4 linked regions of the Homo sapiens genome follow. The protein of the gene in region 1 purifies or fractionates together with the protein of each later gene. This does not show direct contact. Each region holds a gene or a part of one and is shown on either strand. Other genes may lie near its edges. The genes, in order: GPR18, CALML5, POF1B and SERPINB3.

Region 1 (6,926 bases):
CTTGAGGCAGGTGGCGGGAGTGGAGTCTTTATCTGGGTCTTTATAGAGCAGTAGCAGAGGGGTGGTCGTGGTCAGGGTCATTATCCAGACTCCCACACACGCCAGCACGGCTTTGCACGTGTTTTTAAGTTCTTTGGCGTACTTCGGCTGTACAATGGCCATGTATCTGTCAGCACTAATAAAGGCAAGAAGCCATAAAGCAATGCTTGGGTAAAACACTGTGAGAGCTCCAAGAATCTGGCAGAAGTACTCTCCAAATGGCCATTCATCTTTTGCATAATAAAACATTCGAAAGGGTAAAGTCATTATAAATATCAAGTCCACTAATGCCACATTCATCATATAGATGGTTACCGTGGTTCTCTTCTTGGTGGTACAACTGAAAACCCATAATGCAGTGATGTTAACAAATAATCCAATTATGAAGATACAGCTATAGAAGACAAGGGCTGCAATTTTGTATTCATCTGGATGTGAGCTGTTAAAAGGGACAGGTTGATCTTGATTGTTCAGGGTGATCATTTTACAGCTTGTTGGTAGGCATGATACTTAGAAACTGTAAAAATAGTTAAGAAAAATAAGAATAAAATCGTTGGTTAAAAAATAAATGCTTAACATTCTCCCACTCAGCTTGACTGCCAGTGAATTTTAAGTTCGAGAGCATTTAATCAAGGAACGATTCAACTGGTTAACTACTGAACATTCACAGTAATTCTCATTTGAGAGAGAATGGGAACTTTTCCTTTGTTACAGCTATAGCCCCACTGTCTATTGAGCATGTAATAGGTACTCAATAAATAAATATTTACTGAATTGATGAATAAATGAAGGAACTTTTGATGAGATGATTCACAGCAACTCTACTTTGCTAAAAAACTCTAGTTTGTAATTCTCTAGTTTGAAAATGAAGACTTGTGTAGCTGGCTATTAAACTTTTTGTTTTTTTTAAAGTGGAAACACTTCATAATATTTATTACCTTATGTTCTCTTTAAATTATCATAGGTTGAGAAACAGCAATGTTTTGTGTCATGGTCAGCAGATCAAGAACTAGACTGTTAGAGCAATAGATGAGCTGTTTTCTAGTGCACAATTGGGAGTACGTAAAGCCAAGTCTTCCAGGTTTTGTGATTTCAGCTGCTCTACTTCAGTGGTTCACAGAAAGCAGCACCTTGAAAAAAGCTAGTGCCGTTAGTAACTTTCATATCCTCATTCCATCTAGATTCAGAAGCTTCAATATTATTTAAATTTTAACAATTTTCAAAGTAAATCCAAAAAAGGAGTATCTAAGACAAGTAGATATTAATAAGAAGTCATTCAGTAACTTGATGTGTATGTAGAAACTTATAAATTTCCATCACCAAAAAAAAAAAAACCGTCCATTTTAAATGGAAAGGAGGTTATTTGGGGTTGCAAATATCATTGACTCCTCAGTGTGAAACTTCATTCCCCCATGATGCAACACCAACAACAGACTTCAAAAATAGACTTTGCTGCAATGAGATGGAATCTGTGGCATCCCCTTGTAATATGGAGGTGGATGAAAAGTTTCCTTCAAAAATGTCACTTTGCAGAGTGGGCTGTCTTGAAATCAGCCCAGAATTTCTCTTTAAGGAAAACTATGGGGGAGATTTGCTGTCTGTGGTCAGTGGCATCACGGGCTATTGATAATTAAGAATTAACTTGAGCAATTGCTGTGGTTAAACACAAGAAACGTGCCTGTCTGCCTTCCTTCCTTTCCCTTCCCTTCCCTTCCCTTTCTTCCCTTCTTCTCCTTCTTTCCTTCTCAAATATTTAGGTTAAATATGATTTAGGAGCATAATTCTATATATTTAAAAACATATTAAATTTTCCAAATATTGGTGTGACTAGAATATTAATTTCTATCAAATGAGGAAAGTGCTACAGAGAAAAATTATATCTCTAGTGTCATTCAAAGGAGAGTAATCTTGGAGGCTTAAATCTTATTTTTAACTGGAATGCATTCTTATTAAATAGTAGCAATTATAATATAAATGAAATTTTGTATTTGTTTTTCTTTTTTTAGTATTGCATCAGGACTCCCTTCACCTATCCTCATCCTTCAATTTTGTGACATAAGTCCTGTACTTACAAACCATCTTGAGTCTTTTTTCCCACGTTATGCTCAAGCTGTTTTTATGTAGCTTGTCACCAATACTTATATTCATTTGCTGACGTTTGAAAAAAAATGAGTGATGCATGTGTTTTAAAGGCATTATAGTATTGATTGTGCTCTGCAAACACAGAAATTTTTGGATAAATATTGAAAAGTGATTGACTTTAAAGTCAGCTTTTTAAAAGCTATAGATACCATGATTATCTGTAGCTTTTCTTTTCTTAAAAACCATTAAGTTATTTCATGAAACAATGTAATTGAAAACATGTGATGAACATTCCTAAATATACATATGATTTACCATAAACATTTTCTTTCCTTAAGTTGAAAAAAATTACATTTAGTATTAATGTAAAGCAATATTGAAAATAAATGTAAAATCATATTAATGTGGAAAGATGATTATATAGCCTATTTCAAGGTCTTTCACCAACATAGTTTGTTATGTTTATTTTTTTAATTAAATATATTTTTTTAATAGAGACGGGGTCTCACTATGGTGCTCCTGGGCACAACTGATCCTCCTGCCTTGGCCTCCCAAAGTGTTGGAGTTACAGGCGTGGGCCATTGCGCCCAGCCTGTATTATTAAAATGAAATGATTTTTGAAATGCAGTACATAAAGCATTACTTTTGACAATAATCATGAAGTTAATTAAATGCTGCTTACCTCCTGTCCATCAAAAGTCTGTGTGAGAGATGAGCATTTTTCAGCACTTCCACTTCTGTCGAAGGGATATCTTTGAGTTGCTTCTGTTAAAATAGCTCTTTCTGGAAACAGTGTATTTAAGAAATGTTGTATTTTGTTTTAGACTCTTTTGTTGCTTTAAAAAGTAGTTTCCAGTGTAACGCTTGGCGTCGGAGTTGGTGCTGGGCTGACTTTAATTGCTGCTTTGTCTCTTTCAGGAAGTGCTCTCTGAAATAGGCTTTTTCACCTTATGACTTTACCCTGGATGTGGTTTTTCTCTTTCACAAATGATTTGTTTATGAAGTCACACTTAGCATAAGCTCCCCTTGAAATGATGGCATATATTTAAGATAATTATATACAAAGGATAAAGTTTCTTCAGTTTGTGTACTTTGATGCTTGAAGTCTGCATCATCTATGGAAAGAGAAGATTTGATATTGAGTAAAAGGGGGTTTAAAGTCTAGCTTCTTTGCTTTATAAGCTATGTGACTTTGTCTAGTTACCTACCCACTCTGACTAACCCTTTGTTCCTACTTCATTTCTGTACAGTTGAAATAGAGATAATACTATATCCAGTAGGATTGTAGGGGCCCTAAACCAGAAAGATCCCAAGTGCTTAATAGTACCTGGCACTTAGTAGGTACTCCTAAATGGAGTCTCACTTTTTACTACCAAGTTATTAAAAATCATAGAATATCCACATTTCCACTTTTTACTATTTAAACATTTCTAAATGCTTAAAAGTAGGATCCTTGATTAATTGCTTCTGCTTTGCCACATACATTTATCCACTTTAGTTTGCTGTATTTTGTAAGTCTGCTTTTCTAGTGCGTGGAAGTCTAGAAATAATTTCTTTTGCATAAAAATTTCTGCAAATCTTAGCAGAAAGGACTCTGAAGTCTTTAGTGGACTGATTTACATATTAAGAGTGTTTTCACCTAAGAAGGGAAATGAAACCAGCAGAAAGGGAAGTGAGCAACGAATCGCTGCCTGCCTTGTTAGGTTAATTTTGTTTTACTTTCTCATTTCTTAAAAAAAATTATCTCTCATTTGCTTATCCTAAAATTTTAATTATCTTTATGTTTGGTTATGCATGGTTTGTCAACTTTTTAAAGGGTTCATGAACTTAAATGTATTTGTTTTTTTGAATTTTAGACAGTTTGGGGTCCATCCTTTTTTTTTTTTTTCTCAGACAAAACCATAGTAAATCTGTGGCTTAGAAAAGTTACTTAAATCCTTGCCTTTGGTGATAAAATACTTTTGATTGTTACAACCTGCCAGAATGATGGGTTTTAGAAGTGTTGGAGACAACCATAGCAACTATTTCTTGTGTGGATGAAGAAATTGAAGGCCAGTTACTTGCTTAAGAACTCAAGGTAAAGCCAGGTCCAGTTTCTCCCGCTGTAATAACTTCTTATGAGGTAATTATATTGATCTGTCCACTAGATAGGACTTCTTATGGCTGAATCACATTCATCAGTTTTTTATATGTGATGTTATATTTCATTCATCACACAGGAGTTTGATGTTTCAGCTGGACAGAAATCTGCCTGCATGCAGACCTAATCTGTCCTTTGCCTTATTCACATAGCTTAGGACTTTTCTAAAATTAAGTATTGATTAGCTTCCCCATTGCTGCTAAAATCAACAGATACATTGATGGCATGTGTCTAGAAGAGTCCTTTCATCAAGACTTGAATTCTTCACGGTGCACAGGGGCATTCTTGTTTCTGAATTGCCAGACTCTTAGAGGAGGCATCCAGGAGCACCTGAGGGCTCTCCATAGGCCTGGCTTCAGGTTGGGGTGAGCTCTCACTTTTTCCTCATCTTGCTCTCCATTCCAGCCCTCTGGACTGGCTACATTTGCTCTTCCTGCCTCTCACATGCTGTTCCACCCACTGTGGCATTCCTCACCACTGTCTCCCACCTGATGGCATGGCCTGCTGCTCTTTGTTCTTGTAGCTACCTTTTTCAGGAAGCTTTCTCTGCCATCCGAAGCTGGGCTGGTTTCTCTGCCCTCCGAAGCTGGGCTGGTTGTTCATCCCTGCAGGTTTCCTTAGCACTTGGTACCTATCCCTGTAGTGGCACATGTTTGCATTGTTACTGCATATTTACTTGCTTTTTCTCCTCCACTAAATTGCATTCCTTGAGAGTTGGCATGTGTTGCATATGTGTGTAGAGAAGAGGCATTTAATATTGGTTGAATTTCTGACTGAACAAGTAGGTGAAGAAATGGAGAGGTTGGGGGAGGAATGGATAAATGTCTGGGCCTTGAGTCAGCAGGCAGGGACACTTTGACCAGCTTATGAGATGGGGAGACTTAGGCAAGGGCCTGAGGTCTGTCGTCCTCCCCTGCAACCCATGAGCCCTATAGCATTGACCCCCGTTCGCTGTGCTCCTGGATCTTCGCGATGGTTTTGTGTTGGCAGGGAATTATAGTGAAAAGAAACTGCCCAGTCATTTGACAGCAAGTAAACAATGGGTCAAGGATTCAACTTGTATAATGTAGACACAAGTTTCTTTAATACTTGAACCTAATGAATTTTTTTTTTTCCCCAAACAGAGGAACTTATTCAGGGACCATTCATGCAGCTTTAATTTCTTCACTTACTTTGGAATATGAGTGAAGGAGAAATGTTTCACTTGCAAAAGAGGGATTTTACTTATTCCCAGAGACTGCAAGATTCCCTTTGCTTTATCAAATAGTGTGTTTTAGCTGCAGTTTTGGGTTTTGGTTTTGATATTAAAAGCCATAAGTGAATTTTGATTTTAGCCCTATAAACCAGTTTTTGAGTGAATATAATTCAGTTAAGCCAGTTTTTAATGAGAAAGAATGTAGTTAATAGATCTGTATAGCAAATTCCCACTATAAAATATGCTTCTATGTTAGACATTTGTCTATGCCACAGGTAAAATAATATTTCCTGTTCTGTTAGCATAGCAAGTGTGAGGGCAGCTTATCCTTGTTGCCTCCCATCAGTGCGGGGACCAGGGGTCCACTGTTGTTACTGTTCATGTATCCCAGCAGGGGGACAGTCAGCACACAGCCAGTCCCCAGGGAGAAGAGGGTGTGAGGCAGACAAAGAGTCCTCTGAACTAGAGGAGAGGCCTATCCTTTGGCCTTGACATCCTCCAACCTTTGTCCCCTCCTTTCTGTTTCTCAAACTTGTATCTAAACTGACTGCTCTTTGGGTGTGGGTGTAGGGGAGATATGTTGAATAGTAAGAGTTTCTGCATAAAGAAGATTGAGAAACTATTTGTCTAAATGTGTGGTTTTTCTTAAGTCCCAACAATTTACAGCTATAATCTTCTAACCCAGTTAGTATACCTCCTTTCTGTTTGGTTTCCTAAATTGTATTGTAAATTTAATATTCCCAAATTTCTTGTCTTTAGCAATTTTTGTGTGTAGTTTTAAAGATGTATAGACATGTAGACATTCAGACACTTAACCTCACAGCAAACAAGTTGAATCCATATCTAACCATATATAAGTGATGGCAGTGAAATCAGTCCTGGAACCACTGAAGTCCCATGGGACCCCAGGCCCAGAGTTTGCAGTGTGACATTTTACTATTGGAAGAGAGATCCAGAGTCGCCAAGGCAGCAGATTGAGCAGAACTCCATGGTTATTGTGAGGCACACAGCCTTCTGCTGCACATTCTGATCTCACAGTTACCAGAGGTGCAAATGGAGATGGGTATACAGTAGTCCCCTTATCCGCAATTTTGCTGTCTGAGGCTTCAGTTACCTTCAGTTACCTTCAGTCAAATATGGTCTGAAAATATTAAATGGAAAAATTCCAGAAATAAACAATTCATAAGTTTTCTGTTGCATGCCATTCTGAGCAGCAGGATGAAATCTCTCACTGTCCCGCTCCTTCCTCCCCAGGACATGAGTCCTCCCTTTGCCCAGTGTCTCCACACTGTAGACATTCCCACTCATTAGTCACTTTCATAGCCACCTTGGTGATCAGGTTTACTGTCACAGTGTCACAGTGCTTGTGTTCCAGTAACCCTTATTTAATTAATAATGGTCCCAAAACACAAAGGTACTGAGCCTAATGTATAAGTTAAACTTTATCATAGGTATGTATGTACAGGAAAA
Region 2 (6,348 bases), on another chromosome or scaffold:
ACACATAGACACAGAGACACACTCAGACACACACACAGATACACACATACACATGCAGATGCACACAAGGACACACAGACACACAAACATACAGAGACTTACACACAGATGCACACATACAGAGACACGCATACAGACACACAGACACACACACAGATGCACACACAGACGTACACGTATATTATTTGCAGCCGAAGAGAGGCAGGCTGCGTGCAGAGGCTGGCAGCTGGGCTCCGTCTGTCCATGCGAGGCGCCCGCTCCTGTTTGTGCGGGACACGTGCCCAGGTCCTCACCAGCAGCTCAGGCAGAACCTGGAGCCACAGACACCGCCCAGCACCATCCTCACACATCCTCTGCCCACCTGCCCTCTGCTCCGCGTCAGGGGAGGCAGGAGCTGCCCCTGGGGCCTGCTCCAGGCAGTTCTGCCACCGCAGGTGAGAGGGGTGGGCTGGAAGGAACCCTGGAAGCAGGTGGGGGCCCTCGGAGGCAGCCGCCCCACAAACACCAAGCACACATGGAACTCGGCAGTCCTTTATTTAGATCAATGCGGGGCTGAGGGGCCCTCATTCCACTGCAGGGCAAAGGGGGACCAGGCCCAAGGAGGCCTCCTTCTGCCCAAGGTCTGGAGGCAGAGAGGGGCTCGCAGGCGGCCCGAGGGCGCCGCATCCAGGCCCCGGAGCGCAAAGCCTTCCTCCCAGGGGGAGGCAGTTTCCCATCCACCGACCAGGTTTCCCCGGAGAGTCCCAGCACAAAAGCAGCAGCGGGCGGTGGCCCTGAAGGCTCAGAGCGCAGCCAGGGGGACACAGGCGGGGAGCCTCACTCCTGGGCGAGCATCCTCGCGAACTCCTCGTAGTTCACCCGCCCGTCCTGGTCCACGTCGGCCTCGCGGATCATGGCGTCCAGCTCCTCCTGCGGCAGCGGCTGCCCCAGCCCCGCCATGGCCCGCCTGAGCTCGTCCACGGTGATGTGGCCGTCGCCATCCTGGTCGAAGGCGCGGAAGGCGACCTGCAGGTCCTCCAGGCCGGCCCTGGCCTTCTTCGCCGCCGTCAGGAACTCCTGGAAGCTGATTTCGCCGTCGCCGTCGCTGTCAACCTCGGAGATGAGTTTCCTTAGCTGGGCCTCCGAGAGGTTCTTGCCCGTGGCCTTCAGCGCCGCGCCCAGCTCCTGGGCATTGATGGTGCCGTTTCCATCCGTGTCAACCGCGGAGAAAGCCTTTTTGTACTGGGCCTCCTCCTCAGGAGTCAGCTCACCGGCCATGCCTGCGTCTCCTGCACCTCGCGGAGCCTCCGAGCTGCTGCCCACCGGCCCTCAACCTGCTGCTCTCAGAGCTCGTGGTCCAGAGTGCAGGCAGCCGCAGGGATCCGGGCAGCGTCTGTCCCAGACAGTTCTGCCTTGGCATGGGAACCCCCTCCTTTTCTGCAATCGGAACAAAGGGAGGAGGGAGGCTCCCCACCCTCCAAATGCCCTGGGGTGAGAGCCTCCTCCCAGGGAGGGCCAGATCAGCTGCAGACAGGAAATGCAGGAATGGGAGTTGGGAGAGCTGTCAGGTGCCAGGTGGGAACTGCCATGGGGTCGGGGTATCGGATGGCTAGCCTGCCAACCCCGCCTGGCCTTGATAGCAACCACCTCCCTCCAGGAACATTCTGCCCAAGGGATAGTTTCCCCTGCAGCTGATTCTCGGAGATCCTGACCAAGCCAAGGGGTTCAAGACAGCTTCTGCAACTTCACAAAGACTGAGACTGGAGGGGGAGGTGGCTTGAAGAGGGCTCCCTCAAGGGCACAGCAGGCCCCAGTGTTTGGTGTTTCCGTACCCCTCTCTCCAGTGCTACTGCCTAGCTCTTGCCCTGAGGCTGGGGCTGGTGGAAGGGAAGTGGGTGGTAGTGTTGATTCTGCCAGGGCACAACTGTGGGTATCATGAGATTCCCAGGCCAGGGTCTAGAGACAGAGGATGGGGCTCACTGCCTATAACTTCAAGGAAGCAAGGGACCAGGGCTGCCTTCAGAGCCATAGCTGGTGCTGAGATGGTGTTTATCAAGTGAACATGTGACGTGCAGTTTCAGAGGAGAGGGAAAGACTTTTTGTCTCCCCAGAATACTCCCTTCTAGCTCAGGGATTCCTACAATTCAATTCCATCGCCAAGTCCAAGGTTCCCTGTGCAGACACCCTGGGAGCTCAGTGGCAGGCGTTCCATTCACAGGGCGTCAAACAGTTACAGCTGGAGTTTTGCTGCAGCGAGACACGGGGGACCTCAGTGCCCAGCATACCCCAAAGGTGCAGGCAGAGGTGCAGGAGGATGCAGAACAGGTGGCTGCCATCAAACTTGGCCCTCCTTGTGGTTTTACTAAGCATCAGCCCTAAGCACAGAGACCCATCTGGGAGCCTACTGGGGTCCTCAATCTGATCTGTTCTCTGGAAGGAAACCCCCAGGGCCACTTGCCTTGACCAACTTTTAGAGCAACAGCTAAGCTTTCGGGGGACCATCCCCAAGTCCTTCCACTGATGTGATCTACAGTTGTGAGGGGACATTTGCCTTGGAGTCCCCAAAATGCCTTTCCCAAGCAAGTCCCCTCTGATCTCCATAGATTCCCATTCTTCTCCCCAGCCCCTGCCCGTACACAGGGAACAAACTCCTTTATTCCCCTGGGAAAGTTTATACATTCCACCTCCCTCCTGTTCAGCCCATCAAATAGACCAAGTGCCCTCTCCTTCCCTAAAGTGCAGCCAGACAAACACCTCCCAGCCCCTTGGTGCTGCACACATTCTCCAAGGGAAGCCGGAGGCTGGGGTGCCCAACCACGCACTCCATGACCCACAGCTCAGTCCCCCAGGACCACACAAGGGGCAAACCAGGCAGAGCAGTGAGAGGAGGGAAGATGCCCCAGCCAGCCCTAGTGTGGCAGCTGCTCCCTGAGCTGCATGTGAGGGGCCAGAGGGAGGTGCAAAGGGCTCGGAAGCACCACAGCAGAGGGAGAGGCTGAGGTCTGCAGAGAGGGAGCTCCGTGGACCAGGTACAAAAGGGAAGGTCATGGTCAGCAGGGAGAGGGAAGGAAGGGGGTCACCCCACCGGAGTTCAGGGGGACCCAGCATAGACAGAGAGATGCAGAGAGCAGTGTCCCAGTTGTCTAACTCATTTTATAAAGATAGCTTGAAGATTTTCTAGCTCACCTCAGTGGTGGAATAATACAGAGGCCTCAATAAATATTGAGCAACCAATTTCTCAATGAAATTGACAACCGGTTTGGGGTGGAGAACGTGGTTCTGGCCAGGAGATGAGAACAGAGAAGCATCCTGCCTGGTGAGGGGCCCAGGGAGGGCGGGACTCTGAATAGCTGGATTCAGCCCAGCTCCTTGTTTTATTTCCTTAAAGAATACCTGAAGATTTAAATCTATAGTTGAAATTTCCTTTCCTTCTGATCTTGTTGATGGGACCTGTGATTAAAATCCAAAGGCTTAATAATTATTTCATGTCATTTTCCCCAGGTATTAAATACTACTTTGCAAACAATATTAGGAGACTTGAGCTCCCGGTTCCAGTTTTGTCAGTGATGTGGAAACGTGTGTCTCAATATCCACATCTATAAACTAGGATGATGCACCCACCATATCTGATCGGAGCGTGTAGGATCAGAATATTAAGTACAGAGCCAGCAGCAGGTGTTATTATTCTATGATAAACCTCATGTTAATAACGAGCTGATTCATGTTTGATGTAAACCAACACTCGGGAAAACATCTACTTGAAGGGGAATCTCACAATTTTGTGATTATACCTCTTTTGATTGAACGGAAAAATTAAATGCGTCCACCTCGAGGTTTAGTTAAGTCCAACATGCCAAGGCTCAGAGCATTAGCTGACTTTTCAGTGTCAGCTCCAGACAGAGGCAGTTCCATGCAGAGCAGAAGCACCTATTTAGAAAAAGCCTCAGGCTGTCTCATCACGAGACAGGATGATGGTCACTATTCTCACGATGTGCGTTTTCTAGATGGAGAGAGGCCGTGTCCATAGGGAAAGTCCCCTGACTTCCCGCTGCGTGTTTCCCCATCCGGGGTCATTTCCTCCCTAACACATTCTCTTTTCAGGGCATGTACAAGCACTGAGATTGTTTTTTTCATCCTCCCCTCAGCCTCCCACCACAAGTGGCTTGCAAGTATGCAAGCCGTCAGCTGCCTTGGCTCAGCCTCTGTGGGTGAAGTTTCCACTCCCCTCCTCTGGGTTCAGCACTAGGGACACCAAGGACGGCCATGCCTGAGTGACCCGCACCACAGACGGCCTGGCACAGCCCAAATGGGGGCTCCCGAAGAGGGACAAGATGGCATTTGTTGTCAAATCTAGGCAAGCTTGGTCAAGCCCCTCTGCCTTGGCTGGTTTAGCACGGCAGTTGGGTGCAGAGCCTGGCTTTGAGGAGGGAGAAACCCTTCTTTCTAGCTAAGGTGCATTCTCAGGCGACGCCTTCTGCGTGTATCCCTGTGTGATGCAGGGGCCAAGGGCATCACCCGTCCTCCACTCCATAAGGAGCCTGAAGCTGGGGTGCCCAGCCGCTGGCTCCACATCCCACAGCTGAGCTCCCCCGACCCAGGGGCCATGTGCGAAGCAAACCCAGCAGGGAAGTGAGAGGAAGGAAGATACCCCAGCTAGCCCTAATGTGGTGGCTGCCCCCGGAGCTGTGTGCGAGGGGCCTAAGGGAGGTGCAGAAGGCTGGGAAGAACTGCAGCAGAGGGACAGGCTGAAGTTTGCAGAGAAGGATCCAGGGACCAGGTGAGAAAGAGAAGGTCGTGATCAGCACAGAAGAGGGAAGTGGGGGGGTTTGCAGGGAGATGGCAGCTTTGTGATTGAGTGCTGGAGGTGGGCTCTCCTCCCCTCTCCCGCGCCTGTCAGCTGAGCCCCTCATGGAGACGCCAACTCTCCCTGCCACCCTGGAGGAGAAAGGGAGTCTCCTTCATTGAGGAGGACTGAAGACGTCTGCAACTTGCTATAGAAAGGATGAAAACCTCTCCAAGGTGGCTGGACAGGTCCCCAGAGGCAGGAAGGGGAGAGTTATCATCAGTCATGGGACTGCCTTGTGCATTAGCTGTGTGCACATGTGTTTTTGTGTGTGTATGTATATGTCTATTTGTGTGTGCATGTGTGTGTGGGTTTGAGTTTGTGTGTGCATGTGAGCACAAGTTTGCATGTGTGTGCAAGTGTGCATGCATGTATGTGTGTGTGGGTTTGAGTTTGTGTGTGCATGTGAGCACAAGTTTGCATGTGTGTGCAAGTGTGCATGCATGTATGTGTGTGTGTGTTGGGAGAAGATATGCAGGGTGTAGGGTGGCTGTCCTGTTCAGGCAAGGCCAGCTCTAGCTTTCACACCAGACTCACCCCGGGAACAAAAACACACTCTGGCACTTCCACTACACTTTGGCTCCTCAGAGTGGAGAAACCAGTCAAACAGGCCTTGGAGCCTCAACCAGCACAGAAACTCCTCACACTTCTGTGTTTGCAGAAACTGATCTCACCTGGCACCTGTGCTGTCTCTGCAGTGTTGGCACAGCCCTGACCTTCTCTGAGGACAGGGCAGCCCCAGGGAAATGAGAAGGGCCTGTGTGGAGGGTGTGATCTGTGGAAGAGAACACGGGGGACCCAGCTTCACAGAGCTCATCTCCCTTGCGATTATCCTCAGCAATGAGAAATAGAAATGATGAGCGATTGTGCTGGTTGCACAGGCAGCTGGCTCCGAGCCCCCTTTCCTGGGTACTCCTAGACACTATCCACCTTCCCTGCACACCACACACCTCCCCTACACACCACACACCTCCCCTGCACACCGCGCACCTCCCCTACACACCACACACCTCCCCTACACACCACACACCTCCCCTGCACACCGCGCACCTTCCTCCCCTACACACCACACACCTTCCTCCCCTACACACCACGCACCTCCCCTACACACCACGCACCTCCCCTACACACCACACACCTTCCCTACACACCACACAACGTCTTCCCAACAGCGTGTGGTAAGATCACTGGGGGTGAGCTCCTGGCTTCTGCACTTTGCTCCCTGTGTGGCCTGGGTGAGCTGTTTCACCCCTAAACGCTGCATGCCTCTCTGGTGAAGAATATGGTACTAGCACCTGCCTTATAGGAGACTTGAGAGGGGCAAAGCCCTGCAGGAAAGCCTCCGCCCAGCACCTGGTGAGAGCAAGCACTCAGTAGGCAGAGCCCCTGCTAGCTCCTGCACCCCCTGCCTGCGCCAGCTCTCTGCTGGGTGACATGCCAGGCTGCTTCCTGGGCAAAGCAGAAGTATCCTCACTGCAGACCTGGGTGGCAATTCTAAGTTCTCAGGGCTTCAGCTGAGTAAAGAA
Region 3 (7,029 bases), on another chromosome or scaffold:
CTTCCCCCTCCCCCCACCCCACGACAGGCCCCAGTGTGTGATCTTCCCCAACCTGTGTCCAAGTGTTCTCATTGTTCAATTCCCACCTATGAGTGAGAACATGTGGTGTTTGGTTTTCTGTCCTTGCGGTAGTTTGCTCAGAATTATGGTTTCCAGCTTCATCCATGTCCCTACAAAGGACGTGAACTCATCCTTTTTTATGGCTGCATAGTATTCCATGGTGTATATGTGCCACATTTTCTTAATCCAGTCTATCATTGATGGACATTTGGGTTGGTTCCAAGTCTTTGCTGTTGTGAATAGTGCCACAATAAACATACGTGTGCATACGTCTTTATAGCAGCATGATTTATAATCCGTTGGGTATATACCCAGTAATGGGATGGCTGGGTCAAATGGTATTTCTAGTTCTAGATCCTTGAGGGATCGCCACACTGTCTTCCACAATGGCTGAACTAGTTTACAGTCCTGCCAACGGTGTAAAAGTATTCCTATTTCTCCACATCCTCTCCAGCACCTGTTGTTTCCTGACTTTTTAATGATCGCCATTCTAAGTGGCCTGAGATCACTGTGGTTTTAATTTGCATTTCTCTGATGGCCAGTGATGGTGAGCATTTTTTTCATGTGTCTGTTGGCTGCATAAATGTCTTCTTTTGAGAAGTGTCTGTTCATATCCTTTGCCCACTTTTTGATGGGGATGTTTGATTTTTTCTTGTAAATTTGTTTGAGTTCTTTGTAGATTCTGTATATTAGCCCTTTGTCAGATGGGTAGATTGTAAAAATTTTCTCCCATTCTGTAGGTTGCCTGTTCACTCTGATAGTAGTTTCTTTTGCTGTGCAGAAGCTCTTGAGTTTAATTAGATCCCATCTGTCAATTTTGGCTTTTGTTGCCATTGCTTTTGGTGTTTTAGTCATGAAGTCTTTGCCCACGCCTATGTCCTGAATGGTATTGCCTAGGTTTTCTTCTAGGGTTTTTATGGTTTTAGGTCTAACATTTAAGTCTTTAATCCATCTTGAATTAATTTTTGTATAAGGTGTAAGGAAGGGATCCAGTTTCAGCTTTCTACATATGGCTAGCCAGTTTTCCCAGCACCATTTATTAAAAAGGGAATCCTTTCCCCATTTATTGTTTTTGTCAGATTTGTCAAAGATCAGGTGATTGTAGATGTGTGGTATTATTTCTGAGGGCTCTGTTCTGTTCCATTGGTCTATATTTCTGTTTTGGTACCAGTACCATGCTGTTTTGGTTACTGTAGCATTGTAGTATAGTTTGAAGTCAGGTAGCGTGATGCCTCCGGCTTTTTTCTTTTGGCTTAGGTTTTTCTTGGTAATGTGGGCTCTTTTTTGGTTCCATATGAACTTTAAAGTAATTTTTTCCAATTCTGTGAAAAAAGTCATTGGTAGCTTGATGGGGATGGCATTGAATCTATAAATTACCTTGGGCAGTATGGCCATTTTCACGATATTGATTCTTCCTACCCATGAGCATGGACTGTTCTTCCATTTGTTTGTGTTCTCTTTTATTTCCTTGAGCAGTTGTTTGTAGTTCTTGAAGAGGTCCTTCACATCTCTTGTAAGTTGGATTCCTAGGTATTTTATTCTCTTTGAAGCAATTGTGAATGGGAGTTCACTCGTGATTTGGCTCTCTGTTTGTCTGTTATTGGTGTATAGGAATGCTTGTGATTTTTGCACATTGATTTTGTATCCTGAGACTTTGCTGAAGTTGCTTATCAGCTTAAGGAGATTTTTTACATTTTTTTTAAAAAAGTACTTTAACAATATTGCTCTTCTGTCTTCTGACTTTCATTGTGACTGAGAAGTTTTTTGTTAATCTTATGATTTTTGTTCTTTGAATAATGTCCTTTCTTCTCTGAGGCTGTTTTTAAGATTCTCTTTCACTGGTTTTCAAGAATTTGATAATGATGTGCCTCTCTGTAGTTTTCTTCATGTTTCTTTTTTTCACGTTCACTGAGCTTCTTGGATACGTGTGTTTATAGCTTTACATCATGCTTGGAAATAATTTGGTCATTATGTCAATTATTTTTTTCCACCACCAATCCTGCAGGACTTTAATTATATATATATGAGGACATTTGATATTTTCCACAGTTATTTCATGCTGCATTCATTTTTTTCCGTTTTCTTTTATGTTTTATTTTAAATTATTTATTTTGATGTATTAAAATTTATCGGTCTTTTTGTAATGCAGTGCCTAATCTGCTGTTAACTCCACCTAATTTTTTTAATGTTTAGTAGTCCAATGTGGATCTTTTTTATATTATCTATTTCTCTCCTGTGTTCATGCTTTCCTCTAACTTCTTGAATATACCTTGTATATTTTATATGTTTCTAATAGATGCACATTTACCTACTAATTTTTTTATCAGTGTTGTCTCTTGGTCTGTTTCTACTAATTTATATTTCTCTTCATTATTAGTCGTATCGTCCATTGCATGACTATTCATTTTTCGTTGAATGCCATGAATTGTGATTTTATATTGTTGAGTTTTAGATTTTCGCTAGGGTATTACTTAAAATATTTGGAGTTTTGTTCTGAGATGAAATTATTTGGAAACAATTTAATACATCCAAGCCTTGCTTTTAAACTCTTTGAGAATAACCTGTACTTTGAGGCTAATTTTATCCCACTACTAAGGCAATATTCTGCAGTATCTATCTGATGGCCTCTATATCAGGAGAGCTTTTCACTCTGGTTTTGTTAGTGGAACACAAAACATTACCATCCCTATGAGAGCTCCCAAAATTGCCAGCCTGCTCCTTTCTAGTCATTATTTCCTAAGTCTTGGTAGCTTCTTCACATACAGGCACACTGATCAGTTTTCACCCAAAGGCTTTTGGGAAAACCTCTACAGCTGTCCTGACCTCTCTCTATCTATGTAGCTCTCTTCTGTCTGATACTCTGCCCCACAAACTCTGGGTGCCTTTGCCTATATTTACTCTAAACTTTATCACCTTATCTTGGTGAGACTGCTGGGATCTGTTTAGCTTCCTTTTACTTATCCCGTGACCAAGAAAATCTCTCCAGGCAGTGAGCTAGGCACTTGTAGGGCCCATATCATTTGCTTCCCTTTTCTGGGGTCACTGTCCTGTGCTGCCAGTCGTCCATCATGGCCAGAAACAGAAGTCCCTCTATTTTATTTTCTTGAAAATAATGGTTGTACATCTCTGTCCATTGAAATAGGGTTTTTTTATTTTTTTGTTTTTTCAGTAACAGTTAAAAAGTCATTCAGAGCCGAATTGGCTTAATTAGGGCAATCAAACTAGGAGTGACTAAAAAGGAATGAAAGTTATTTTCTCATGCAGCCTGTAAACTAACTCTTTTCTTGCCAACAGGTACAGGACACAATATCCAATCCTAGGCCTCCTATATGATGACTACGAATATATACCACCAGGTAGTGAAACACAGACTATTGTGATTGAGAAAACAGAAGACAAATACACTTGTGTAAGTTCACTTGGGCATTTTTAGCCCTATTTTGACGATATATGTACAGCCTTTTAAAATTGAGGTAAAATATCAAATGAACTAAAAACTTTGAGTATTTTTTTCTTTTGAGATTTTCTGTTTCCATTATTGATATACAGTGGGAATTAACAAATTTTGGAAAGATTCATACATGTGGCAATATAATTGATTATTTAAGCTATAATATAAATATAATTTTTGCCCCTCAAAAGGAAGAAGATTAACATTAGTGATATGCTAATTTTATTTATTTTCTTGCCTAGCTCGGTAGTTATTGAATGGGTTCCATTAAAATTTTCCAAAACAGTTTCCCTTTTTCTAAAGCAGGTAGCAAATATCATAGACAATTATGAAGGCAACTGGAAAATGGAGAAGAGGCATGTTTCAATAGAATTTGTCTTGCAATCTTGCATGTGGTACTTATTCCTGTGGATTTTATATATATATATATTATATATATTAGGATTTAGAAAGAAGAGATGTTTCTAGCTTCCTCACTAGACTGTAACATCCTCCAGCCTTAAATCCCACAGTTATAGTGAGGTTGCTGAAGAGTACTTTAAACATCATATACTCCAATATTTACTCTACCTTCTACAACATCCTCCAAAATGGCCAGGTGACATGGACCTTAGCATCTTTCTAAGTGGTCCAATCCATTGCTAAGGGGACTGATTATTGAAACCTTCTTATAAAGGACTGAGAGCTACTTCCCTAAAACTTTTACATATTGCTCTATTAACTTTTAAAGTAATGATCATCAAATAGGGGATATATAGTTGTCCCTCAATATCCATGAGAGATTGGTTCCAGGATCCCCTACAGATATCAAAATCTGTAGATGCTCAAGTCCCTTATCGGCATAATATTTGCATATAACCTATGCACATCTTACTGTATACTTTAAGTCATTTCTAGCTTACAATAACTAATTCAATGTAAATTCTAAGTACGTGTCATACCGTCTTGTTTAGGAGGTAATAACAGTAAAAAAAAAAAAAAGTCTGTACATGTTCAGTACAGAAATGATTTTTTTCCTGAATATTTTCAACCCATCATTGGTGGGGAACCCATGAATACCAAGGGCCAACTATATATTCCCTAGCACAGTTGCTCTCTACAGCAACAATTTTGTACCTTACGGGACATTTAGCAATGTCTAGAGACATTTTTGGTTTTCACAACCAGAGGGGTGGGTGTTATTGGCATCTAGTGGTTAGAGAACTAGGATGCTTCTGAACATACTACGATGTGCAGGACAGTCTCCCATAACAAAGAATTATCCAGCCCCTAATAAGTAGTGTTGAGGTTGAAAAACTCTGCTAACAGAATGCTCTTGGGTTTTTTTCCTAATTATATACTCCTACACTGGTGCAAGAGATTCTAATAGTAAGCCACTGGTAGGGATCATAGGAATGTGTGATATCCTTCTGGTGAAATGAACAGAGAAATGTTTGAGGATTCTAGTTCTCAAATCATACAGATCTGACTTAAAACATTGTGAAAATGACAGCCTTTGACTTCTTATGATAAAATTATCTACCTGTCAAACTACTGAGGTATAAAAGTAGGCAAAACTAAATCTATGGCTATTAAATGAAGAAATGGTTATCCTTGTGGGATGGATACTGATTAAAAGGAAGCATAAGGAGAGATTCAAGGTCTTAATAATGTTCTGTTTCTTTATCTGGGAGATGGTTACATATGCATGTTCGGTTTGGGAAAATTCATTTATTTGAATACTTATAATATGTCCATTTCTTTCTACATGTTTATTGTACTTCAGTAAAAGCCTTAAAATGCTTAAGTGTACCGTGGTGAGCAATAGACAAATATACAAATATCAATCCAGTATTCTGCAGAACCTTTTGAAAAATATTTAAAAATTATGCTTCAGATGTATAGTTAATAAAATTAAACATCTAAACATCTGTTAAATAACTTCTAGAAACATCTTTTGGTTGAACAAGCTCAAATATTTGAGTCAACAAAAAAATTCAAAAAGTTTCTTTAGAGCTGAAGCCCTTCTTTAACTACAATCCAGCCATCAATCTTTTAAGTATGGTTGTTATCATCAATGAAAACAACCAATGTTTAGTAATCCCAAAGTAAAAATAACTGCATTTAAACTCTGAAATGTTGTTTTTGTTAGGTCATTAGTTAGCTGAAAATTACTTACTACTAATTATTAACCCATAGAATTTAAAATTGGCCACTCAAAGATAATTTGATGCCCAAAGTTAAGACTGAGAAGCAATTGCTGCCACTAACCCTAACCACATGTATCCCAGAGGTGGCAATATGAAGACCTGCCAAATAAAGTTTCTACAGAATAGTAGCCACTACTTCTCTCTCCATTAAAAATGTGCAGCAGTAAAAATCAAAATTGATATTTGAAGAATCTATAGATACTGATAGCAAGGTCAGAATATATTTAAATGCATTCACAGATGAAAATCCATATTTATTAAGAGACAATTGGACATATTTAAACTCTAAATATTACTAAGAAGGAAATCTACTTAATTGTCCTTCACTCTTGCTTAAAGTCATTTGAAACATACCATGAGTAAAGTAAGAAAGACAAATCATTGTTTCATTGAATATATATATATAAAAGAGTGCCACAAAAGTGCAATACATGTCCTTTGGTTTTATACATACCAATTTAAATAATTTTCCATAACTTTGCATATAGTAACAATGACTTTAATTATGAACCAGTTGTAAGATAACCTTTTTTTTTCTTTTCTAGCCATGAATGGATCCACTTTAAAGTATTACAACTCAAAGCCGTTTTTTTTTTGTGTGTGTGTCTCTGCATTAGTACTTTGTTATTTTTCCATCACTAAAGGCCAATCAGAATTTGGAACCATGCTGCTACCCAAGAAATCTAATGGAATGAATTAGTTCTGTAGATGACAATTTCTTCACCCATTTATGAGACCTAAATCTTTTCCATAACACTCATGTATTCAGTATAACAACATACTAACTGAAAGAGGGACCTGATTGTTTAAAGTTTGATTGCAGACACTGTAGAACATAACTCATTATGTTTCAGATAAGGTAACTCCTAGATATCAAACTAATTTGTTGGGGTAGAGATTTTACAAGTCATGCCATTAGAAGATTTTCTCTGATATTATATGTGCAGTTCAGTTACAAGATGAAATCATGTTTTTTTAACAAAAGAGATAAAATACAATTGAAGCAAAAAATAACAGCTAGTATATAATATATACAGTCTGTATTTGCTTTTCACAGTAGGCCTGATGACTAAAAGATATGCTTTATTACACGCTATTTTCACCTCTTGAAAGTCAAAGGTGATGATTAATTTCATTTAGCAGGGAAGTGGAATAATATCTTTTGAAATAACTAAGTCCACTAAATTATACAGTATGCTATTCTGGTTCTAAGTACATATTAGTCCCTTGGCAAATCTGTTCTTTCAAAGCATACCTTCCCCAAATGAGCCTACCTACTTCTTAAAAAACATATAACACAATGTGGTAGTAGTAGGTGTAAGGAAGGTA
Region 4 (7,488 bases), on another chromosome or scaffold:
AGAGGCTGTGGTTTGCAAACTGCAGAGCAGGCTTCCCTGAAGGAGATTCATTGCTTCTCAGACCTCTTTCCAGTAATTTCAACCATGATGTTTCTGATCTTTGTTTTTATCTTTCATCCTGTGCATTCAGTATTTCCTGGTACTTCCTCAACTATTCTCAGGAACTCACCCAAGCCTGCCCATTCCAATAATATCCCATTAGTCATACATTTCCCACCAAGATGTATCGTATGTGACTGAGTCAGTGCCAGTTTATCGATGGTATCTTATTACTTATTACTCTTACTCACTCTATTACCCAACCTCCTCTTTTATTACAAGATTATCCCTAAATCCACACTTCAGTGATGTATTGTTAGGGTCTGGGACACTCCAGTGGGGGAGAGTTGTGGAAACGGAGCTATTGCACTCTGAGTAAATGCTCTCCACCTGGATCGGTCAGGCTCATCTGCCTTGCTTTCTTCCATTTGGCCACTCAGAGACACAGACATCAGGATGCAAATGAAATGTGGGTAGGCCAGGTGAAATTACCTGTAAAAATAGATACGTTTTTTCTCCGAAGAGCTTGTTGGCGATCTTCAGCTCATATGCATCAGTGGATTTGTTGAATTCAGTCAGAAGCTTTTGAAACTGGTGATGAACATTTCCTGACCTATCAACCTTCAAACATCAAAAAAGGAGATCATTCAATTGCTGTATCAATGTAAATACTAAACCCATGCTAAGTCTGTTAGATCAGTCCCTAATGGCTGGTAGTCTCAATGAGGACCTTTGAGCTTATTCCCTGATACTTGGTGTATTTCACCTCAAATACCCTTCAAAATCCACCTTATGTTTCACTTCTTCCAGGAAATTCTTCTTGCTCTAATGTACTGCAATCTTTTCTCTTCTGAACTATAGATGCAGCACTGTCTACCACTGGATTTTGTCCTTGTTGGTTTAAAGGGTTAGGTTTAGCTTCCCAGTTAAACTCTCAGCTCCTTAAAGGCAAGGACCATATTTCACTTCTAACAGTCATCAAGGATATGAGTATGTTGAAGGTTGGATATTTTAAATAGATTATGCCAGGAAGCCCTGTTATACCTGTTGGTGCTGTTATCTTGTAGGACACATTGACTGATCTGTGACTGTTTCCTCATGATGGTCATTCTCTGCACGTAAGAAGAGTGTGTGCCAGGTACATGGCTAAGGACTTTACATGGGTAACTTTAAGTCTTTAGTTCAATTCAGGTGAAAACAAGAAAGCTCAGAGAATGGAAAGTAAACCTCTTCATAGAGACATAAATTAGAAGTGCCACGTTTTGAACCTAAGCCTGTTTAAATCTAGAAACTTCTACTTTCCAGCAAAGCATTTTGCACTATTAAGGCTCTAAACCAATATATTCCATAGCAATCATTTTCCAAAATATAGTTGGACTTGTGCTTATTCCTCTTTATCTCATTAATGACTCAATGAAAATTAAATATTTTGCAACATTATTGTGATTAGTATAATTATAGCTATTTTATAATAATAATAACATTTATTATGACATTTTATGGGCAAGGCAATGTTGTAAACATTTGCATGTATTTGCATGTATTGAGTCAGATTTCTTATTACCCTTAGTTTTCTGGGATGAGGTCACTGGGACTCTGAGCAGTTGTGTCCTGCTCATGTTCACCATTTGTGAAGAGCAAAGCTGGAGTCTGAACCTAGCCTATCCTGATCCAGACCTATGCTCTGAGGTACAGTGCTGACTGTCTTTCAGTAACGAAGAAAGGAGGAATAATAATTATGTGCCATGAAATGCCAACCCACTCTGTATGTCTCAATCTTTGTGTCCAAGATTTTCCCTAAAAATGGCCTTTTCTTAGTTTCTGTGAAGTTCCAGGTTCAAACTATGACCTGTTCGGGGATCTAAAGCTGAACCATAGTGCTCTGTGACTCACATGATATGTTGCAGCTTTTCCTGTGGTGTTCTCTGTGACTTGATCAAAGTGAAGAACCTGGAAGAGACATGAAGCGGGACAAGAAAACTTTACTCAAAAGATCTGTTTAAGTCAGTGGTCTCACAGTTACGGGAATTCCTGCTCAGCCCCCTGTGCTACCCATCAGACCACCACATCTATTACCATCTGCGTGCTAGCCGACGGAACCAGAGAAAAACTGCAACAGGACAACATAATGATGCTGATAGCTACCTTCTTAATCTGTTGTGCAGTGTTGTCTTTGGCTCCTAAGAGGACCATCCCTAATGCTGATGTGATGCTGATAGGGGAATAGAAGATGTTGTTCTCTTTTGATTTTCTGAACTGTTGGAACAGGTCGAACATGAACTTGGTGTTGGCTTCACTGAGTGAATTCATGGTGAACTCGATGTGATCTGGAACTCCTGGAAAAGCATCAGATTCCTGTCAGAATGACTTTAATAAATGGAATGGTATTTTGTAGTACAATTTTCTTAAAGAAATTATATATCTGTGTTGTGAGATTTTGACATTTAAAGTTTTCCTCATCTTATTTTTAACGTTTCAATCTTTCTACAATGTGCATATATTAAATATATTAATGTCTTAATTAGAAGCCTCACAAAATTAGTGTTTTTAAAGACTACTGTAAATAAGTAATAGACCCTCTTTCCTTCATTGCTGGCTACACTAGGGCTAGGTAGGAAGGCTTTACAATGAATGCTAACAGGAGACCTCTGTGGATCACATCCAACCAGCTGTTAAGATGCGTCCCTGACATCTCCTTCAAGACTCTCTGGCTGCAAGGCACTCTCCCTCTGTGTTCCTAAAAGTGCCTTGGTTTACTTGGAACTAAGCAATTTAGATAAAGGACAAATCAGATGAAATAGGTATTTTAATTTTGCTCTGGCAGAATAAGTAAAATATAATCAGACAGAATGCAGGAGATGCATGATATAGAACACAGTATCATTATTATTCTCAAAAATAATTCATGTTATTAAGCTGGAGAGGCTTGAAGCTCTTACCTGTGTTCCTAGAGGAAGCAGAGGTGGGCAGAGAGGCTATGTGTGTCTGTGGAATGAAGGGTGAGATCCTGAATTTATGCCTCTCCTCTTGCTGCCTCTCCCTCTGTGGTTAGTATTTGAAGTTACTCAACTTCAGATTTCACAAGCGGGCTAACACTCACCTTTATGAATACGAAAATTTATGACAAAGGACAGGATTACAGTTCTACCATTGTACCTCCTTTTTAATCTATAGGGAAAAAATAAGAATGCAAGTCAGCAGTCACCGGCTCATGTGAAATACATGTAGGTGCCTTTCTAATGCCAATGAGAATAAGTTTAGAATTCCAATTTCCTCTCATTTGTTTCAACTCCATCCCTTTGTATTCTACTCCAGCTGTAAAACAAAAACAAAAACAAACAAACAAAAACCCCACCATTCTTTTCTTGGATTTTGCATTGTCTTTTAGGCATACTTCGAATACCAAAGAACTAAAAAGCTTACATTTCCTGTTTTTCAGTTCTGAAAGTTTTTGTCATCCTATGAATTTCCTTAGTAATTTTTCTGTATAACAAGGAATATAGTGCTAATTCTAAGTCCAAAGAGATAGTGAAGAAGTGTACTTCAGTATCTTATAGCATACTATGGAGAATAGGATTCTATTGCCTTCTCCTGAATGCTCAGCTTTGGCAGTGATCCTACCAGTCACTTCCTGTGCCCCTTACAACCATCCCAGATGGTTTTCTGTTGCATAGGCTCAGTGAGAAAGTTATCTGCCTTGCTGAGTGATATGGTTTGGCTGTGTTCCCACCCAAATCTCAACTTGAATTGTATCTACCAGAATTTCCACATGTTGTTGGAGGGACCCAGGTAGAGGTAATTGAATCATGGGGGCCGGTCTTTCTTGTGCTATTCTCATGATAGTTAATAAGTCTCAGGAGATCCAATGGGTTTATTAGGGGTTTCTTCTTTTGCTTCTTCCTCATTTTCTCTTGCAGCCACCATGTAAGAATAACTTTTGCCTCCTACCGTGATTCTGAGGCCTCCCCAATCACGTGGAACTCTAAGTCCAATTAAACCTCTTTTACTTCCTAATCTCAGGTATGTCTTTATCAGCAGCATGAAAACAGACTAACACATTGAGTTAACAGGCTGACACTGAGAAGAGCAATTGAAACAGACGGGCCATTTTGAATGTCAGCTTTCTAATTTTTCATTTAAAAATTAAGCAGAAAAAGAAGTTGCTTGACCTGTCAGGATCACAACGTTTCTTGGTGGTCCTTCCATTTAGCACCTGGCTTCAGACTCATTCCAGTGTTTCCTCTGGAATATCTTGTAATCTGAAGAATGTCTGTGGCCAGGGAGAGGGTTGTTGTCCAAGGCCATTTAATCCAATATCTCCCTGACAACCAGAGTGGGGGGCTGTTTGTTTTGTGGACCCCCTTTTTTAACATATAATTTATATGCCACAAATTCAACTGTACAATTCAATGATTTTATTATATTCACAAAGTTGTGCTATCACCATCATGATCTCGTTCCACAACAATTTCACTACCTCCAAAAGAAAACTTGTATCTCGTTCTTCCCTTACTCGAGACCCTGGAAACCAGTAATCTACCTCCTGTTTCTATGGATTTGCCTATTCTAAACATTTCACGTAAATCGAATCATACAGTAAGTCCTTTTGTGACTGGCTTCTTTCATCTAGTATTATCTTCAAGGTTTGTCCACGTCATTGCATGGATCAGTACATCATTCCTTTTTGTGGTCGAATAATATTCCATTCTATGAATAGACCACATTTTCTTTATTCATAAGTTGATGGACATTTGTGTTGTTTCCATCCATTTACTATTATGAATAATGATGTTTTGACTTTTCATGTACATTTTTTTGCATGGCATATTTCTTCATTTCTTTTGAGTATAAACCTATGAATGAAATCGCTGGGTCATATGGTAAATCCAGGTTAACATTTTGAGGAAATGCCAGACTCTTCTCCATAGAATTCTGCACAAGTGTGCATTCCAACCGACTGTGAATAGAGTTCTGATTTCTCCACATTCTCCCCAACACTTGGTATTGTCATGGGCCCTTTTTAACACCAGCCATGAGTTTGTTTTCTCAGCACATCATGAAGTCAAGGGAGATTCATCTACAACAAGGTTCCGGAAACAGATAGGATGAAGTAGGGGCTGGACGGGAGAAAGGAAGCTGTGTTTCCAATCTGGAAGTTTCTCACCTGCCTGTTTCCTCAACCCCCAAGACATGCTCTTCTTAGGTCTCCTGTATCAATATATATGTTTGGAGTCTCTGAATGAGTTTGGGAGGTATAAGTTCCCTGATTTAAGTTGGGTAATAGACTAATGGGGTGTTGATGATCTAAAAAGCTCAAAGATAGGAGAGAAAGAAACAAGAGGAAATATCCTAGATGAAGAATTCCAAAAATGAATAATGGTCTTCTTAGCTGAGTCTGCATCCAGGGCTGTAAGAGAAAAATGGACCTTCCTGTATATGGAGAAGGATGGGTTTACTTGGGTACCAAAGCGAAGGAATCTAACGTCTCATAGGACAGAAGCAAGAAGCTCAGCCTGGGAATAGAGGGGAATAAAAAGCAGGATAACAAGCTGAGGCAAACTGGGATTACAGGGGACCAGTCTATGGAAGAGAATTTCAGACTATGGCTAAATCTTCTGAGATGCTGAGGTTTGTCATGAAGGTTGAACTTGAGGAAAGGTACTAACTGAAAATGACCAGGAGTTTGCTTAAATTTAGAGAAAGCTTGGATGAGTTCAAATGAGAAACCATTTCAGACATTTTTTTCTGTTCCTAAAAAGTACTCCTGGCATGTGATAGACATTCTTGACAGGACATATCCTGATGTGCGAGATGGGACATATCCTGATGTCATATATTGCCACAGAGAGCTCAGGAATTCCAAGAAGTTTTTTGCATGTGAACACTTGCCAACTTATGTATCTTGGCATTTCATAAACCTATGCCAACTTCATTGGATCCAGGAATCCAGAAATTAAAAACAAATCCTCAATGGGAAATTACACTTTCAGGAAATATCCTGTCATTACTAATGTCTTTATAGGTTGGTTAACAAATATCTCCTAGATTTTCCTGGACCTCACTTCCTTATGAAGGCTGTAAAGTTTTCTCAGCATTGTGAAGTTACAAATTAAAGAGAACATTTATTTATTGTTTCTTACCTATGTGCTTGTGCCTATCTATAGGGAAACTGGTTAGTGGAAGAGATTTTTCAAGCATCAAATAACAGAATATATGCCAATTACTGTATTCCCAAGGATCTCTCTACAGATGTGAATATGTATATATTGAACAACCTCAGAATAAGATTAACTAGCTTTCCTTTCTTAGTTTTCATGAGGGAAAACAACTCCAGTAAGGTTTGAAAAGCAGAGCGGGAAATAGTCTCACATGTATGTTGCAGGAAGTCAGGGACCCTGAACCGAGGGACTGGCTGAAGCCATGGCAGAAGAACATAGATTATGAAGTTTTCATGGACATTTATTAGTTCCCCAAATTAATACTTTTATAATTTCTTATGCCTGTCTTTACTGCAATCTCTGAACATAAATTGTGAAGATTTCATGAACACTTATCACTTCCTCAATCAATACCCTTGTGATTTCCTATGCCTGTCTTTACTTTAATCTCTTAATCCCATCATCTTTGCAAGCTGAGGAGAATGTATGTGGTCCCAGGACCCTGTGATGATTGCATTAACTGCATAAATTATTTGTAGAGCATGTGTGTTTGAACAATATGAAATCTGGGCACCTTGAAAAAAGAACAGGATAACAGCAATGTTCAGGGAACATGAGTGATAACCTTAAACTCTGACCGCCGGTGAGCTGGGTGGAACAGAGCCATATTTCTCTTCTTTCAAAAGCAAATGGGAGAAATATCGCTGAATTCTTTTTCTCATCAAGGAACATCCCTGAGAAAGAGAATATGCCCCTGAGGGTAGGCCTTTAAAATGGCCGCTTTGGGGGGCAGCCGTCTTTTATGGTTGAAGCTGTAGGGATGAAATAAGCCCCAACCTCCCGTAGCGCTCCTAGGCTTATTAGGATGAGGAAAGTCCCATCTAATAAATTTTTGGTCAGACCGGTTGTCTGCTCTCAAACCCTGTCTCCTGATAAGATGTTATCAATGACAATGCGTGCCCGAAACTTCATTAGCAATTTTAATTTCACCCAGGTCCTGTGGTCCTGTGATCTCACCCTGCCTCCATTTGCCTTGTGATATTCTATCACCTTGTGAAGCACGTGATCTCTGTGACCCACACTCTATTCGTACACTCCCTCTCCTTTTGAAATCACTAATAAAAACTTGCTGGTTTTGTGGCTCAGGGGGTATCATGGAACCTGCCAAACTGTGATGTCTTCCCCAGACACCCAGCTTTAAAATTTCTCTCTTTTGTACTCTATCCCTTTATTTCTCAGACCAGCCGACACTTAGGGAAAATAGAAAAGAACCTACGTGAAATATCAGGGG

What was found.
Region 2: the proteins of GPR18 (region 1) and CALML5 purify together in Homo sapiens (affinity purification with mass spectrometry; 3 studies listed by BioGRID and IntAct, with this or other methods). This does not show direct contact.
Region 3: the proteins of GPR18 (region 1) and POF1B purify together in Homo sapiens (affinity purification with mass spectrometry; 3 studies listed by BioGRID and IntAct, with this or other methods). This does not show direct contact.
Region 4: the proteins of GPR18 (region 1) and SERPINB3 purify together in Homo sapiens (affinity purification with mass spectrometry; 3 studies listed by BioGRID and IntAct, with this or other methods). This does not show direct contact.

What each region holds. Positions count from the first base shown.
Region 1 is NC_000013.11:99,255,351-99,262,276, forward strand, and holds the start of GPR18 (N-arachidonyl glycine receptor), read right to left. Parts: upstream 3,030-6,926; 5' UTR 2,804-3,029; intron 1,170-2,803; exon of another isoform or gene 978-1,169; intron 557-977; 5' UTR 523-556; coding exon 1-522. UniProt on the Homo sapiens protein: G protein-coupled receptor (GPCR) that plays a role in diverse physiological processes particularly within the immune and nervous systems.
Region 2 is NC_000010.11:5,498,182-5,504,529, forward strand, and holds CALML5 (calmodulin-like protein 5), read right to left. Parts: upstream 1,390-6,348; 5' UTR 1,258-1,389; coding exon 817-1,257; 3' UTR 516-816; downstream 1-515. UniProt on the Homo sapiens protein: Binds calcium. May be involved in terminal differentiation of keratinocytes.
Region 3 is NC_000023.11:85,278,643-85,285,671, reverse strand, and holds part of POF1B (protein POF1B), read left to right. Parts: intron 1-3,354; coding exon 3,355-3,469; coding exon of another isoform or gene 3,470-3,493; exon of another isoform or gene 3,494-3,557; intron 3,558-6,245; coding exon 6,246-6,251; 3' UTR 6,252-7,029. UniProt on the Homo sapiens protein: Plays a key role in the organization of epithelial monolayers by regulating the actin cytoskeleton. May be involved in ovary development.
Region 4 is NC_000018.10:63,658,868-63,666,355, forward strand, and holds the start of SERPINB3 (serpin B3), read right to left. Parts: upstream 3,027-7,488; 5' UTR 2,979-3,026; intron 2,376-2,978; 5' UTR 2,350-2,375; coding exon 2,185-2,349; intron 1,990-2,184; coding exon 1,933-1,989; intron 661-1,932; coding exon 532-660; intron 1-531. UniProt on the Homo sapiens protein: May act as a papain-like cysteine protease inhibitor to modulate the host immune response against tumor cells. Also functions as an inhibitor of UV-induced apoptosis via suppression of the activity of c-Jun NH(2)-terminal kinase (JNK1).